Regions from separate parts of the Homo sapiens genome. Here region 2 is linked to region 1. The links come from fine-mapping of genetic effects on gene expression. A gene starts in region 1. The other region holds a variant in brackets. All regions are shown on one strand. Distances are from middle to middle.

Region 1 (4,399 bases):
CATCTAACCACAATGTTACTAATAAAATAACAACAATGCCAATTACTAATGCTTTACTACTTACTGTTTACTGTTATTGTTCCTCCAAAGTGGTCCACATAATATATATATATATATATATATATATACATATATATATATATGCACAAAGACAGAAAGAGCTGAACAAATTGTGATGTATGACTAAGAGAAAAACAGAAAGACGCAGCAGAATATGATTATTTAAAAGGGAGCCTCATTGTGAAAGTTCTTTTAGCATTTACAAGATTAATTTATGATCAGAACTGCTTTAAACGCCCTACGCACATCAGGCAAGGCTATATCCATGTATACACACAGACATATGCATACACACAAATGAATATCATCATACAGACCCATAATTCACAGACACATTTTAAAATTAAATGCTACTCCAAAGAGAAATTGTTGGCATCCTGTGAGTGTGATTGTTGCCCTTGGCCTATATATATCTTATGTTCTAGAGATTAGATCACTTTACAGCCACTTCTGAGGGCGAGTGGGAATAAAATGCTGCTTCAGGAGCGTCAAAATAAAAAGAAAACATATTAAACCAAAGTTCCTATAAGTGCAATCCCAAGGATTAAATGTTCAGATAGCCCGTAAGTCTAACCCAGAGGGAGGGAGGAGCAGTTAACATTTTCTCAAAAGAAAGAAAATGTCCAAACCAATGATGAGTGGACATGAGGGACCTGAAGAGAGCATGTGATGGGAATGTGAAAACAAAAGAAGCTTCTAAAAGAAGACACCAAGGATAATATTCTCACAAAAATTCAGACCATCATTCTATATTTTCATGCATATGAATTTTGGTACATATTTCATGCATATGAAATTTGGTACATATATACATATATGTACCATGCATATACATATGCGTACATATACATATACGTATGCATACACATATGTATCTATGTACACACATACACATATGTGTACACACATATGTACATGCACACACATATGTGTACACATATGTACATGCACACACATGTGTGTACACATATGTACATGTACACATATGTGTACATGTACACATGTGTATATATACATATTCACACTTATGTAAACATATTCAATCTAAAGCTTCCTTAAGACACATACAAACAACAACCAAATGATTAGTGTTTGGCCATTGCTCATGCAGCAAAAGCTGAGTAAACACAGCTCTGGATCCTTTTCTCAGGCCACCACTCCCTAGCTGTGTGACTGACAAAGTCTATGCCTGAACACCTACATTCATGACCAGGGTGGCCTTTCCTGTCTCCTGTTGCCCAAGCATGTCTCAGGTATAAATAAGTTCCAATACTGACAGGGCACAGCAAGGGTAATTTACATGACAATAAGAAATGATTTCTATCTGAACAGTGCATACCAGAGTTGATTTCGACAGACTTATCTTTAAAAAAATACACATAACAAAAAAGGAGACAAGTAGTAGATTGGGGACCCACAGCTTGAAAGTCGTTGCTTGTGATTCTAAAACATCCCAGTAAAATTATTCACAGATAATTGTTTAAAAATATAACTGTACATACCGTTGACACTTGGACAACACAGAGAATCACGTAGTTGAAAATCCACATATAACTTTGAACTCATCAAAACCTTAACTACTAATAGCCTACTCTTGACCGGAAACCTTACTGATAACATAATAAACAGTTGATTAACACACATTTTGTGTTGTATGTATTGTATACTGTATTCTTACAATAAAGTACGCTAGAGAACAGAAAATATTATTAAGAAAACCATAAAGAGGAGAAAATACATTTATATTCATTGAGTGGAAGTGAATTATCATAAAAGTCTTTAACGTCATCCTTTTCAGGCTGAGCAGGCAGAGGAGGAGGAAGAGGGTTTGGTCTTGCTGTCTCAAGGCTGGCAAAGGTGGAAGAAAATCTGCATATAACTGGACCCAACAGTTCAAACCCGTGTTGTTCAAGGGTCATACATGTAAAATACTGTGATTTTTCCCCCTTCTATATTCAGCTTCAGGTGACCCGACACACTTTGGTATCAAAAGAGAATCTGAAATGTACAAGAACTGCGGATTTCAAATGGAAAAGGTGCATAATTGTGCTATTTGTTCCTGGGTGAGTGTGGGACGGAGACGGTGAGAGTGTTGAAATGGGATGGAGATAATGGAAGCAGTGGGGAAGGAGAGAAAATACCCTTCCTATCACACACACTCACACACTCACACTACACACTATTTCTACAGTCACAACTACCCAACTGTTATTGATCCTTTATAACTGCAATTGAGTACAGATGTAGGAAGATTGAGAGGGAACTGGGATCTGGCGCCTGGATTGCTCAAGAGAGGTCAGGGAAACCCCTCAGAACTCCTGAGACCCAGAGATTGAGGGAGGGGTTGAGGCGGAGTCTGCAATGGGGGCTGTCCAGCAGTAGCAAGCAGCGGGCCGATCCTGGTGGAGGGTTGGGAGGCTGCTGTCATTTTATGGGTCGGCAGCCAGAGTGAGAGTGTCCCTGCTGCCAGAGGACTACGGCGGGCTGGGCGCGGGGTCCCCGCCTCTCGCTCACCACACAGACCCCGCGCCTCCTCTGGCAGCCGCGGTGGTGGCGGCGGCAGAGCCTCGCCCACTCCAATCCCCACCCTCTCCATCCTTAGTCATTAAAGAACAGCAGCGCCTGGCACGTTCTTGGAGGACCCCGGGCGCAGAGGAGGAAAGGGAGCAGGCGCAGGGGGACTGGAAAGGCAGCATGCGCTCGCCAGGAGCAACCTCGGCGCCCAGGGTCTGAGGCTGCAGCCCCAGTTCGCCATTGTGAGCCGCCGCCGGGGGAGTCCGCTAGCGCAGCCGTGCCCCCGAGTCCCCGTCCGCGCAGCGATGGGGCACCTGCCCACGGGGATACACGGCGCCCGCCGCCTCCTGCCTCTGCTCTGGCTCTTTGTGCTGTTCAAGGTAGGGGAGCTCCTCCACCCCTTTTTCCCAGCGGTCCGGGCGGCAGCCGCGCTCCGGCGCCCTCGCTCTGCCGTTGGGAGCGGCGCGCCCCAGGGCACGATGGCCCAGCCGCGGGAAGCGCCTGCCGTGCAGCCTGGGCGCACGCTTTGTTGTCCTCGCGTGTGCGTGTTCCTGGTGGTCTTGAGAGGTAGGGGGCGGGGGGAAGAATAAGGGAAGTTTGCTCCCTCCGGCTTTCGCCCTTTGTGCTCTTTTATCGCTGCTGAAATCCACATCAAAGGTGGGCTTGTTGGATCGTGCTTTCTCAGGCAAAATGAGGTCACTTTCTTTTCTGGTTTCCACTGCACCCCAACGCTGCTTAACCTTTCCGCCCTCCCTCGCACAGAATGCTTTGTCTTAATTTTCCTTACTGCTGGAATTATACACTGGAGAGTGGAGGGGGACTGAGCTCCCTGGACACAAATGGACTGCCAGGGCTACGTTAGGGCAGAATTTTCTTTGAATAAGGAGTGTCAGGTAGAGAGCTTGGTAAGGATTCCTCTCCCCAACTCCTATCAACATCTTTACAATTCCTTTTAAAAAGTCTCCAGACTTTCTCCACTATATTTACAGATGATATTACCCCTAGATTTAATGGTGGAAAAATATATAATAATAAACTTTTTCGTATCTTCTTTGGAATGTGCTACCCTGAGGTTTTACTTTGAGAAAAATGAAAAGCAAAGGAGTTGCTTTTGAAAAATCAGTTTGACAACTATACTGTACATAAATTTTTTTGAAGAAATGTCAGCTAGATGTTTTCTTGGACGGCGATGTGAAGTTCTGAAGTGATTGTCTATCACTCATGTCTTCAGTGGATCTACTTTAGTTCTGTTGTTAGTCTTTTCCTCTCTCCGCAAAGCAAACTCAAGAATGTCGACAGGTGACTTGGAGCTATCCTTTCAGGACCACAGTGATACCTTCCCTAGAAATGGATGCCAGGTTAATGGATCCAAAGGTTTTCTTATTATAGAGTCACTTCTTGCTTATATGCACCATTAATTATGAATGCCTAAAAAGAATATAATGGAACAGGACCAATGGATTAAGAACAGCATTACTTTTAAATACTCCATATTTTCATTTATCTTAATGAAAAATATAAAAAAAATTCAGGGAGAAACAGCAACAGAATGCCTAAGTAAGACCTTAAAATATATTTAATATGTTTTAACATTTTTTCTTAAATTATCAATAATCATTAATTTTAAAGTATGGTAAATAATAAGCTCAGTTATATGTTTTTACTGTAGGAGGTTGTTCTTTCATACACATCATAAATGCATTAGACTTATTAGGTTGTCTATTAGTCGTTTTCTAACTATTTATCAAACTGTCACAACTATTTTACCTATGCAATAATTGTCATGAACCAAAAATTAGAAACCAAGTCACTATGCATTTTACGA
Region 2 (4,399 bases), 220 kb after region 1:
AAAATACAAAAAAATTAGCTGGGCATGGTGGCATGCGCCTGTAGTCTCAGCTACTCAGGAGGCTGAGGCAGGAGAATTTTTTGAACCCGGGAGGCAGAGGTTGCAGTGAGCCGAGATTGCACCACCACTGCACTCCAGCCTGGTGACAGAGCGAGACTCCATCTCAAAAAAAAAAAAAAAAAAAAAGATTAAAGGAAAAGGTAACGAGTTTTTAAAAGATATGCTCTCTGGGACTGAGAAATAAGGGAAGAGCCTCAGAATTGTGACTGAGGAACAATTCTGTAGTGTGCATTTTTAAAAAAGAAAAGCCTAGGCTCAGCCTAACTAATCATTCATCTATGCCCCCAAACAACTTCACACTTGGTTCTATAGATTCAAGTTCCACATGAGTCAGAATCCCTAAAGGACATAATCCTATTAGCAAAGGCAGTTATAAAGGAAGTGAGAAGTGGAAATTGACCTCTGTGTTTCATTAGCAGTCTTCCTCAGAGCAGAAGTGGGACAATACAATGCCTGGAGGACTGGACAATTCATTGCAAGTGAAAAAGGGCTCCTGACACCTATTGTGAATTTTGCTTGCCTAAGAAGAACTCATCTCTTTCCTCCTTCAACTCTTCTGCCTAACCTTGTCAAGTTGCTGCAGGAAAGAAACATGCTTCTTTTTAGTTGGACACAAGTTTAGGAGATCTGTGATAAATCATGGCAAGAATGATTTTGACATACTTCTTGGTCCTGGGCAGAGTCACAATGATGATATTCTAGAAACAAGGTTCAAATCTTTCCACACAAAGATGTGTACCTGTCAAAGCAGTGAAATGGCTGACAGGACTTTTTCAAGCACCTCTAAAGGACAGGAGCTGGAGAACAGACTTAGGAGAGTGGGGCAGAAAATGAAAAATCCAAGTAACAAGCAGGAAGAAACCTACAACAGTGGGTAGTCGTCTGACAGGCGCATATAGGTGGATGGAGGATGCTGTTATGTGAACCTAGCAGCAAGGTACAATATGTCCAAATAAGCAATGTCAGGGGGTCTGAGAGCAGGTAACAGGGACCCCAGCTTAAAACCTTGAGTTCAGGCACAGCACTCTGCATACTGGGGGACCTAGAGGGAAAGACAACATCCAAAAGACAGGGTCACAAGCAGAAGACCAGGAGACATTCAGGAATGGAGAATGAGACAGCAGATGACTATTAGAATTGAGGAACAGGCAGGGTTTTTTGGTCTCAAGAGAGCAATGCCAGTGACTCAATTACTAGAAATAAGTATGAAAAGGACAGACAACACAGCTTCCTTTACGAATGGATTTATTTATTATTAAGATAAAATGTCTAAGATAAAAAATTTATCTAATGTTTTATTAATCTTCCAATCCCCTCCTATCAATTCTTTTCTTAAAAAATTATATTATCAGCCAGGCACGGTGGCTCACACCTGTAATCCCAATACTTTGGGAGGCCAAAGTGGGTGGATTGCTGGAGCCCAGGAGTTTGAGACCAACTTGAGCAACATGGCAAAACTCCATCTCTGCAAAAAATGCAAAAATAAGCCAGGTAGTCCCAGTTACTTGGGAGTCGAGGCAGGAGGATCACTTGAGCCAGGGAAGATGAGGCTTCAGTGAGCTGTGTTCGCACTACTGCACTCCAGCCTGGGTGACAGAGTGAGACCCCCGCCTCAAAAAAAAAAAAAAATGATACTATCTGTTTAGCTTTATCTTTTTAAATTTTGACTAAATTTTCAAGCAGCCATTTTTCTGTCTGAATTGTTCCAGATAGTTTCCAGAGAAAGGAAGACAGGTTGTTGGCTAAATACCAAACTGCATCTCATCATTAGAAGGAAGCACACCAAATTTCATTTTTCTCCACCTTTATTAAGTGCAGATTTTTGTTTCTCATCCAGGAAGTTCTGTATTATCAGGGCAATGCTAACTTCAGTATAAATGACACAGAAACTATTAATAGATTATGACTATGATGAAACTGAAGTAGAAAACAGAAGTGTTCTGAAAAGAGAAGTAAAAAAATGGAAGGGGGAAAAGGCAAAGTATTCTGCCTTCCAAGTTAGATAGCTATCTTTATGAAAGGACATATTTCAAAGGCAATATAAAGTCTTTATGGTGCTCTTACCTACCTATATTTGAATTGGGGGATGCTTCACCTGCTTATTAGTGAAAGAAGAAAGAATACACTTAGTAAATTAAATTTTTTTTAAAACTTTGTCTTTG[C/A]TCAGAACCAGCTCCACCCAAATCACTCTTCGCAGTGAACAAAACCCAGACTTCAGTGACTTTGCTGTGGGTGGAAGAGGGAGTAGCTGATTTCTTTGAAGTTTTCTGTCAACAAGTTGGCTCCAGTCAGAAAACCAAACTTCAGGTACTGTACCTTTTGATCTACCTTTTCTCAGTTAACTTAAGTAAGGCTAATTATCTGGGCAAAATAAGAATCTTCTATTTCTTTGAGCTATATAAAATGAAAACTGTTTATTTGCTCTTTTGTGTTTCACTGATAGAAATTAACAGCAGGCTTAGACCAAGCCCAAAAGTTGTTATGAGAACTTTTATCTTTGTCTGTATCACTTGTTCCTAATTCATAAGTCACTCCAGGTCAGACAAAGGAATAAAGGTAGTAGGCCATTGAATTGATCAAGGGAAGAAAGACCCTACAATATAAAATATAATTTAACAAATATGAACCATTTGCCAAGTATATAAAGGCACTGAATAGAACACACATGATAGAATCAATATTTGCCTTCAAAACATTTTTATATGGTGTAGACATTGCATAAGTATAGAAAAAAGTAAAGTAAAATATAAGTACCACAAGACAGGTCCATTCGACCAAGAGAATTTAAAAGAAACGTGCATATCTAGTTTGTAAGGGGGACAGTCTTATTGCAAAATGAAGACTGAGAGAAGGTTATTGCTAAAGCTCTAGAATTACAAATGGCAGATACGATAAACAGAGTTATTCACCAGGTCAGAATGAATGAAAGGAAAGAGATGAACCTGCAGTTCTATGAGTGGCAACGCCACAAGGAAAAAATATTTCACAGCCAGAAGTGAAAGGAAAAGGACAGATTTGTTAGGGATTTTACATAATATAGTGTGTAGACTAATACTGCGAACATAAGTAATTGATCTTTTTTAAATAATGAAGTTCATGAGATTGAGAAGAAAAAAGGAATGCTGGGAGTGCAAATCTTTTCATATTGAATGCTAAGATAATTTGCTTTGATTCCTTTCTCCTTTTGAGATTCCCTTCTATGAATGTATCTCTTGTTGATTTGTACTGAACAGCTGAATTTTCTCTATTCTAAGAATCCTTTTGGAAAATAACTGCTCTGCCAATAATGGATTTTCTTCTCTATAACTACAGTGATGCCTTCCTTTAAGAAAACAATGGTTAGTTAGCTACTTACTACAACTGAGTCCTGTTAGCAAAAGTCTTTCCTTAGAATAATTCTTTTATAGAATAGTGAAAGAGAAGGAAGTGGAAGAAAATGCTGATGGCTCTCATTTCTTTATGCAAGGGTGTTTCAAAATCTTGTTTTGAAAAAAATGCTGGCTCATCTTTTGCTGTTGTACAGTAGTACTTGTCACTAGTCTGGCCATGGGTCCACCAAGTTAGCAACTTCTTTGACTCAAGAATAAGTTAATACTAAATGTTTCTTAGTGCGGATAGTTGCCATGTTTTAGTGGATGTTATATAAAAGCTAAGAATGCAGACAAAGGTGTAGTGTCCTTAATATATAAAGAATTGCTACAAGTCAAAAAAGGTAAAGGTCAACAACCCAAAACAAATATTTCATAGAAAAATACAGAAATCTCTTGAACAGATGAAAACTTCAGCAACCTCACTTACGGTAAAAAAAAAATGCAAAATAAAACTACAATATACAATTTTCACTAGTAATAATGGGAAAGCTCAGAGTTTGCAAATGTATGGTACTGGAAAGAATGTAGGGAGGCAGGCATTGTCACGCATTGATGCCAAAGGTGAGTAACTTGCAAAATGTCTGTAGAGAACTATTTTTCTATAGCTTTCAAAATTTTAAATGTACACTTTTTGACTCAGCAGTTCAAAGAATGTGACACTAGCAAAGAATATATGAGTATATGTGTATGTGTGTACGTTCACACATATATACATATTACATGCATATATTGTGTGTATATATGTGTGTATATATATGTGTGTGTGTGTGTGTGTGTGTGTCTATATGCATATGTGTGTGTCTTCCCAAATTTGTGAAATGAAGTTCATTGTAGCATTGTTTGCAATAGCAAAAAATCAGAGACCATTTACACATTCATCAACCGGGGCTCATTAAATAAATTATGGTATGTCCTTTCAACGGATTTCTGTCCAGCTCTTAAAAAGAATAAAACAGCTTAATCTGTAC

What was found. PIP is the estimated chance that this variant, and not a neighbour inherited with it, causes the effect.
Region 2: its variant is fine-mapped to the expression of PTPRO in whole blood (TOPMed, PIP above 0.99).

The regions. Positions count from the first base shown.
Region 1 is chr12:15,319,848-15,324,246 of GRCh38, forward strand. PTPRO (protein tyrosine phosphatase receptor type O) reads left to right here and starts at 2,661. Exons shown (of 27, transcript NM_030667.3): 1 at 2,661-2,954. The coding sequence starts at 2,880. The region is part of intron 2 of LOC105369673 (a long non-coding RNA gene); the gene reads right to left.
Region 2 is chr12:15,544,342-15,548,740 of GRCh38, forward strand. PTPRO (protein tyrosine phosphatase receptor type O) reads left to right here. Exons shown (of 27, transcript NM_030667.3): 13 at 2,228-2,367. The region is part of intron 1 of LOC105369672 (a long non-coding RNA gene); the gene reads right to left. Among named protein-coding and RNA genes, the nearest start is that of PTPRO, 220 kb to the left of the region's middle. The variant C/A (reference allele first, on the strand shown) is at 2,223.